Linked DNA regions of Homo sapiens: all the other regions are linked to region 1. Evidence: fine-mapped expression QTL. A gene starts in region 1. Each other region holds a variant in brackets. All regions are shown on one strand. Distances are from middle to middle.

Region 1 (2,772 bases):
AGTAGAACTGTTAAAACAAAGAATAAATATAAATGTGATTGGCCGGGCATGGTGGTTCACATCTGTAATCCCAGAACTTTGGGAGGCTGAGGCAGGTGGATCACCTGAGGTCAGGAGTTCGAGACCAGCCTGGCAAACATGGTGAAACCCCATTTCTACAAAAAAATTAGCTGGGCGTGGTGGCAGGCAACTGTAATCCCAGCTACTTATGGGGCTCAGGCAGCAGAATTGCTTGAACCCGGGAGACGGAGGTTGCAGTGAGCCAAGATCGTGCCACTGCACTCCAGCCTGGGCTACAAGAGCAAGACTCCTTCTCAAAAAAAAAAAAAAATAAAAAAAAAATAAATATATATATATATATATATATATATATATATATGATTTTGATAGATACAGCAATTTCCTTCTTCTTGCCCTCAAATAGTAACAAGTCAGGTAGAAAAAATGGGTCTGAAATTTGGTAGTACAAGAGAAATTTTCATTTTTAATTCTTCCTATAAACATTTCCCTCTGGTATAAATTAATTTTGAGTTGTTATATTGACAAAATAAATGATTTAACATATATTGCTGGATAACTTTAGTTCTATATAAAATTTATTTTAAAATAAAAACAGCAGGCATAATAAAAAGTAAAAAAAATTAAAAGTAACGTGGGATGAATGGTTTACAGACATGAGCTCTTTCCTGGATGTTCTCCTTCTGAAATTCTATGATTTTGTGAGCTAAGCTCTTTTGGGATTTCCTAAAATAGGACAGATTTCAACCATTTTAAAGTAAATGGAACAAAAAAAGCTTTTACACCAAGCTTCTTTTCATTCCTATTTAATTCCATATTTTTAGTAAGTTTTGATATCTATAGAAAAGAAAGTAACCTTTGTTTAAATACAAACCCATTTTCTTGGAATAATATATTACATATACAATGTAGGACTAAATTTGCAGATCCAGTGCCAAATACTCTACGTAGGCAGTTTAACGAGGACTTCCTGTTACCGACTAGCTCCAATGAAAATGATCTTCCTTTAATCTAAAGAATAGGCGTCTAACAGGCAGAACCAGATTCTCCAGGTGTGAAGTAAGCAATCTATTTTCACTTGCTATTAACAGCAAACGTACAACTTTATCTCTTATTTGACTTCATTATTTGGCTTTCAAATTAACAACATGAAAACTATACAGAAATTAGTCTGTGCCCTATAAGACAGAGATTTAGATAATTTGTTCAAAACATGAGATGATATTCAGATATTCTCTCAAAGGCAGGACTCCAACACCGCAGGTGGAAAACCAACAAAAGGAAGAAAACAGAAAGGTAAATAATGACTCTTTTCTGTACTTTTTAATATGAGGTATCCATAGACTGACATCTGGTTACACTGTTACATTTAAAAATCACTCAACAAATAATGAGGGTTACTTGTTTTGCTCAGATTTGGACCGGGGTACCAGTAGCTGATTTGTTCACATATATTACTGACATGCTGACTGGGATCTGGGTATAAAGCTCTTGAAAATAGACTACGATAATAAAAATCAACTTTAGAGGAAAGAAAAAATTTTTAAGTCTTTTAAAAAGTAAGCTCTCATTTAAAAAATACTAGAAAGTCAGATGTAAAAACAGATCTAAAATTATTTCTTTTATAGACAGACTATGAATGTGCTTACTTTAGAGAACATTTTTATATTTCACTCTGAAAAGCAGCTTATACCCAAATTTGACACATACGTATAACCTTAAAAATCTGAAATAATTTGCTATAATGGTCTTAATTGCTTCATTGTTGTTTACTAGAATCTTCTAAAATTGAAAAAATGAGAAAATAATCTTGTGAAAGGGCTACCAGAAAATATCGAAGTACTCACTAACCTTTATAATATTTCAACTAGTACATTAAAAATACTTGTTATACCATTTAACGTAAGTGTTAGCATTTAATTGATAGTTTGAAAAATTTAAATCAGCATCATTTAAATACAACATATGTAGATAGGTTAGATACTTTCAAAGTTATAATTGTTACTATGTTAGAATTTAATAAATATTCCATTTCAAATCAAAATAATAATGACTTTTATATGTATTTTAAAGGTGGACTTGAGAATTGGCCACGTAATACCTCGAACACATTATCTTCACAGCTATGCAGTTTTAAATGTAATATAAAAATCATTTTATGTATGTACAGCTTACTTGAATCAGATAAAAGTTCAAAAATTATACATCATATTTAAACAAAAATGATCTTAATGTTGTTATACAAGTTAATTCAATAAGTTATTTAGACTAAATAAAATGTAGAAAAAAGCATTGAAAGTTTACATTGCAAAAAAAGTCAGATACTTCAAAATTAGACAATATATGCAATTTGCAATTTTTTTTTAGTTTTTAGAAACTACTATTTGGCCCTCACTTTAGTAGCCAAAGAGGTTAATATATTACAATAAGATCCTCTGCTTTCACTTGCACTAGAAAAATGTGGCAAGTTGACTTCATATACAAAAGCAACAGAATATTCTGTTTTCTCTTGGGTAAAAACTGGTCATATTTCTTGAAATGTTTTATTTAATCATTACAGTAACTATGAAAAGAAATGGCCTACTTTAAAAAAATCTATAAATACACTAAGTATCTATCCCAGGGCATATTTCTAAAAGTACAAGGTAATTTTTACTCATGTTTCTGTTTCTAGGGATTTTCAGTGTCTGTAATAGGGCAGAGAACCTTTTATTTGAGTCGCACCAGTTTACTTTTCTATTTCCCAGAACAAGT
Region 2 (2,772 bases), 80 kb before region 1:
TTCGTGGATTCTAGTGTGTCTTTTACTCCCCGCTAACCTCACGTGCTAACTGCCAGCCCTGCTCACTTAAAGCCTACCACCAGAAGCAGTGACGCAATAAAACAGACTACTTAAACAGCTCCCTTAATTAAATAATATCTAATTCCAATAATAAATCTCTTATATCATTTGTGGAGATTTTACTCTGACCAAACTCCGATACATAGCTAGCAATACTTCTGCCCCTTCAAAGCAAGATAGACACTCTTGTGTAATTAACTACCAAATCAAGGAATTAAAATTATTTGCCTCTTCTTTCTAGATGCTCAGAAAGTTCTAATGCTTACACAAATTGCCACAAAAATCATAAAATTTCCTTTTAACTAGGTGAATGAGCTTGTAGTCACTTAGAAAAAAAGTGAATAAAAATGGTCTCTTCACCTAGACCCACTTCAGAGCTCAGTCTTTGAAACTTTCATTGATTCTCCATGGAATTTCTCCCTATTCTGTTTTTCCCAAGGAATAAATTTTTAGCTGCTTGAAAACAGGGTTTGTGTTGCATTCATTTTGTATTTTTTACATACAGCACAACCGGAAACTATATTTTTATAACATATTTATTAAATAAATGAATGGGCTGGGTGCAGTGGCTCACGCCAGTAATCCCAGCACTTTGGGAGGCCGAGTTGGGTGAATCACCTGAGGTCAGGAGTTCGAGACCAGCCTGACCAACATGGTGAAACCCCGTCTCTACTAAATACAAAAAATTAGCCAGGTGTTGTGGTGGGTGCCTATAATCTCAGCTACTTGGGAGGCTGAGGCAGGAGAATTGATGGAACCCGGGAGGCCTCCGCCTTAGTGAGCAGCAAGCTGAGATTGTGCCATTGCACTCCAGCCTGGGCAACAGAGCAAGACTGTGTCTCAAAAAAATAAAATAAAAAGGCCAGGCGCGGTGGCTCACACCTGTAATCCCAGCACTTTGGGAAGCTGAGGTGGGTGGATCACAAGGTCAAGAGATCAAGACCATCCTGGCCCAAATGGTGAAACCCCCATCTCTACTAAAAGTACAAAAACAGCTGGGCATGGTGGCGTG[C/T]GCCTGTAGTCCCAGCTACTCGGGAGGCTGAGGCAGGAGAATCACTTGAACCTGAAAGGCGGAGGTTGCAGTGAGCCAAGATCGTGCCACTGCACTCCAGCCTGGCAACAGAGCAAGACTCCGTCTCAAAATAAAATAAAACAAACAAACAAAAAACAAATAAATGCTACCTTTATTAAGAGGCAGGTCAGGAAGAGAATTTTCAGTGTAAAACAAAGAAAATATATTTAATTGAAACTAACAAAAATTCTGAATAGAGTTCTGCACATGTATCACAGAACTTAAAGTATAATAATAAAAAAAAGTAAACGTGGTGAAATGTAAAACAGTTGATGAATCTCTATAAAGAGCACACAGGAGCTCCTTGTACTATTCTTACATTTTTTTCTAAGTTTAAAATTATATCAAAATAAAAATTTTATCAAAAAAAATTCTGAGTAGAGAATAGTTGAAGCAACCTCTAACTTTTATGTTATAGAACAAATGGAAATGATAGAGGCCAGAGGCTTTATCTGAAAAAAAAAAAAAAAAAGGAAAAAAAAAAGCTTTTGCTAACAAGTAATTTATAAAAATGAGAATGGTTTTTCTTCCTGCCAACTGGGTCGTAAATAATAAATTCCTACAGAAAGTAAAATAGCCTGTTAATGAGGGCAGCTACTTAGCAATTGTGGTCTCATTTCTGATTGAGTAGAACAGTTTGGTAACCTTTTTAAAGTAAACTTGACTTTACGGAACATGGCCACTGTTTTAAAATTGAGATATGGTGTCCCCAAAATACCATTAAGACATTTAAAAATGTCAGTTGTCCCTTACACTGCCTTTCTAGTAACAAAAGGGAAACCTAACAGAGTTTGGGAGAGTGGGGCAGGAGACAGTAGACTGTCTGATTTAAAGAAAATTAATCTAGTAAAAAAAAAATTAGCCGGGCATGGTGGCTCACACCTATAATCCCAGCACTTTCAGAGGCCAAGGCAAGAGGATTACTTGAGTACAGGAGTTTGAGACCAGCCTGGGTAACATAGAGAGACCCCTGTTTCTACAAAAAATAAAAAATTAGCCAGGTGTGGTGGCACATGCTGTGGTCCCAGCTACTCAGAAAGCTGAGACAAGAGGATCACTTGGGCCCAGGAGGTCAAGGCGGCATGATCACACCACTGCACTCCTGGACGACAGAGTGAGACTCCACCTCAAAACAAACAACAACAACAAAAACAAAACAACAACAACAAAACATATATATGCCTAATTTGATACAGCAATAGAAATATTTTAATTAGGCCAGGCACAGTGATTCATGCCCGTAATCCCAGAACTTTGGGAGGCCAAGGCAGGCGGATCGCTTGAGCCCAGGAGTTTGAGACCAGCCTGAGCAACATGGCAAAACCTCATTTCTACAAAAAATACAATTAGCTGGTGTATACCTATTGTTCAAACTACTTGGGAGGCTGAGGTGGGAGGACTGCTTGAGCGTGGGAGGTGGCGGTTGCAGTGAGCTGAGATTGTGCCAGTGCACCTGTCTCAAGAAAAAAAAAAAAGTTTTAATTGCTACAATATAATTTAACAAATGGTAAAACCACATCTTTAACCATTTCTTTTCTTCCCTGAAGCATTTTGGGAATTTTTTCTTCATTTACTTTTCCTTTCCATTTCATTTTTTTTAATACTACATTGTTGACTTCTAGTATTCCTTTCCAGTATTT
Region 3 (2,772 bases), 200 kb after region 1:
ATCTTGGAAGCAGAGAGCTAGCCTTCACCAGATACCCAATTTGCTAGTGTCTTGATATTGGACTTCCCAGACTCGAGAACTGTGAGAAACAAATTTCTGTTGTTTATAAAGAACCCAGTCTGTGGTATTTTCTTCTAGCAGTAGGAATGAACTGAGACAACAGTCATAGGTCATAGAGGACTTTGGAAATTAGCATAAACTACCCGCAATCTCACTCTGACTCTCTTTTCTAGAGGTAATCCATCTAGGTAAGAAGGGACATAGATCAATGGTTCTTAAGCTTGGCTGCACATTCAAAACATCAGAAGCTTTGAAAAACCCATGCCTGCATTGCAGCCTACACCAGTTATGAGTATTTCTAAAATGTGTCCAGGTGATGCCAATGTGCAGTCAATTTTAAGAATCAGTAGCATAGATAAATCAGATATGTTTGCCGTTGGGAATAGAAGAAACAGTTATAGCGTTAAATGATCAAAATATCCTCTGAGAAACTATAAATTATGAAATATAATAATCATAACTAGCATATATTTTAAGAGTTATACATATTAACTTATTTAATCTTAATAATAACCTTACACTTATCCTCCTTTAGCAATTGAGGCAAGAGAGATGCAGAAAGGTTAAGTTGGCCAAAGTGAAGGTGACAAAACAGGGACTGACTCAATCTCAGGTACTCTGCTCCAGACTTGTGCTCTTTGCTATTACCCACCACTACCTTGCAAATATTAGTTGATGTGGGTGAATGCATGCTTTTCCTGCAATTGACTCACAACTTGAAGAAAACTGGCATTTGCAATCATTGCTAATTTCCTATCAGTGATCTATGCAGGCATGAAAGGAGATTGCTAACCAAAAGGCCAGGACATAACTCACCACTCCTCAATCATTTAAACAAAAATAGAATCCTGGAAAATATCTCAAACTAGAAAAAAATCTGAATGATGAGAAAATTTTTTTGTGTTAAGCCCAGAGGACAAAAAATGAGCAGGCTCTGGTTGGTGACAAGGAACTATCTTC[T/A]CGATTCATGGTAATAGCCTGGCATGGCCTAGCTTCTTCATTAATGGAGCCATATGGTGTCATCAATGATGAATTTATGTGGGGAAAAACATACTCACAGTTTTGAAAATGTTTTAAATCAATTGTTGCATGCTGTCGTTCATGAATAGAGTGTGTGATGCAAAGGAAAATACTGCATTTGCTTTAAGTGCCTATTAAATTTTGGAATCTTTAAAATATGATATCCACTAAATCCACTTAATATTCAGCATGTTAATTAAGTTTGGCACTTTTTCTGTTTCATTTATCATTTTACACATAATTAAATTTGGAGTCTGGTCATAGCCATTGGGTACAGAATCATTTACAGATGTCTCTATGACAAGTTTTTAATTCAACTTGCCAGTATGAGGGTCTGATTTGGGGGAAGAAAACAAAACAAAATAAAAAAAAAAAAGGAACAGTTGAAGAACAACTACAGTGTGATAGCATTGTAGACTTCAAACATCAATCTGACTGAGATTCCGAATTAACATGATCTTAGTTTTACTTGAGTTTTCTATACAGCAATGATTGATTCTACAATATGGATTTGTCTTACACTTAATTGTGAGCCATTTGTGTTGCTGGGTGGTAAAAATTTGCTAAGTAATTCCCATCCTGTAAAAGAAAAACTCACAAACATACAGCTTGGTATATATCCTATCTAATGATTTAGTCTCAAACTCAGAAAAAAAAACCAACAACATTTTTTAAGTTTTGAGATGGCACTTGGTGCTTATTTACATTATGGGTTTTTGTAATTTACACTTTGAAACGTTCTTTAAGTGCCTTAGAATCCTTGGTTGACTATTTTGTTTTGTCCTTATAAAAGAGAGCCTCTGAAGAAATTGATTGGTTTACTTTAAAAATGTATCATTTCTTCAGTGTACATTAGGCAGACATAGAAATCTATTCTTGGCAATCACATCACAAGAATTCCTATGAAAACATCTATACTGGAGAAAAAGCTGGCCTATTATTTCCTGTTAACTGTAAAATTATTGGTTGCAGAATAAAGAATAGCACTGGTAATCTTTTCCTTAATCAAGCTCTTAACTTCACCTGCTGTTTATTTGCTGAGAAGCAGAAATCTAAGTTACTGCTTTTGTTCCAAACTCAGTGAAACAGTGTCTTTAAAGTATCAAATATAAAGAAAAAAATATAAAATTTCTCCCCAAATAATAGGAATCCAAGAAGGTACAATATGTACAAAGTAAATTCATTTTCCCAATTAATTTATCTGCAATCATTTGTTAAACCTAACATATTTTCTCTTAAATAGGAGCAAATAATAATGGACGCAGGCCATCTACTTATTTTCATTAGCCATTAATTTATCAATAAATTCACAGAACTTTATACATTAATAAAATGATTCTTTTTAAATTTAACTTTTAAAATTGACAAATAATAATTGTACATACTCATGTGGTACCTAGTGATGTTTCAATGCATATAATGTATAGTATTCAGATCAGGGTAATTAACATACCCATGTAAAACAGTTATTTGTTTGTGTTGAGAATGTTCAATATCCTCTTTCCAGCTATGTGAAATTATGTATTATTGTTAACTACAGTCATCTGACAATGGCATAGAGCAGGCGTCCCCAACCCCCAGGCCACAGACAGGTAGTGGTCCATGTCCTGTTAGGAACTGGGCTGCACAGCAGGAGGTGAGTGGCAGTTGAGTGAGCATTATCACTTGAGCTCTACCTCCTGTCAGATTAGT

Which allele goes with the higher level. Positions count from the first base shown, and alleles are read on the strand shown. Sizes are in standard deviations (SD) of each study's normalised expression. Not every link is listed here.
For the expression in fetal neocortex of the gene that starts at base 1,084 in region 1, A is the high allele of the variant in region 3 and T is the other (moderate effect, 0.72 SD a copy in Walker 2019).

The links. PIP is the estimated chance that this variant, and not a neighbour inherited with it, causes the effect.
Region 2: its variant is the best candidate, but not a certain one, in a credible set for the expression of STX19 in spleen (GTEx, PIP 0.90).
Region 3: its variant is the best candidate, but not a certain one, in a credible set for the expression of STX19 in fetal neocortex (Walker 2019, PIP 0.52).

The regions. Positions count from the first base shown.
Region 1 is chr3:94,026,909-94,029,680 of GRCh38, reverse strand. It overlaps STX19 (syntaxin 19), which reads left to right and starts at 1,084. Exons shown (of 2, transcript NM_001001850.3): 1 at 1,084-1,314. The region is part of intron 3 of ARL13B (ARF like GTPase 13B); the gene reads right to left.
Region 2 is chr3:94,106,807-94,109,578 of GRCh38, reverse strand. All of the region lies in intron 5 of NSUN3 (NOP2/Sun RNA methyltransferase 3), which reads right to left. Among named protein-coding and RNA genes, the nearest start is that of NSUN3, 45 kb to the right of the region's middle. The variant C/T (reference allele first, on the strand shown) is at 1,073.
Region 3 is chr3:93,822,411-93,825,182 of GRCh38, reverse strand. No RefSeq gene overlaps it. Among named protein-coding and RNA genes, the nearest start is that of PROS1, 150 kb to the left of the region's middle. The variant T/A (reference allele first, on the strand shown) is at 1,021.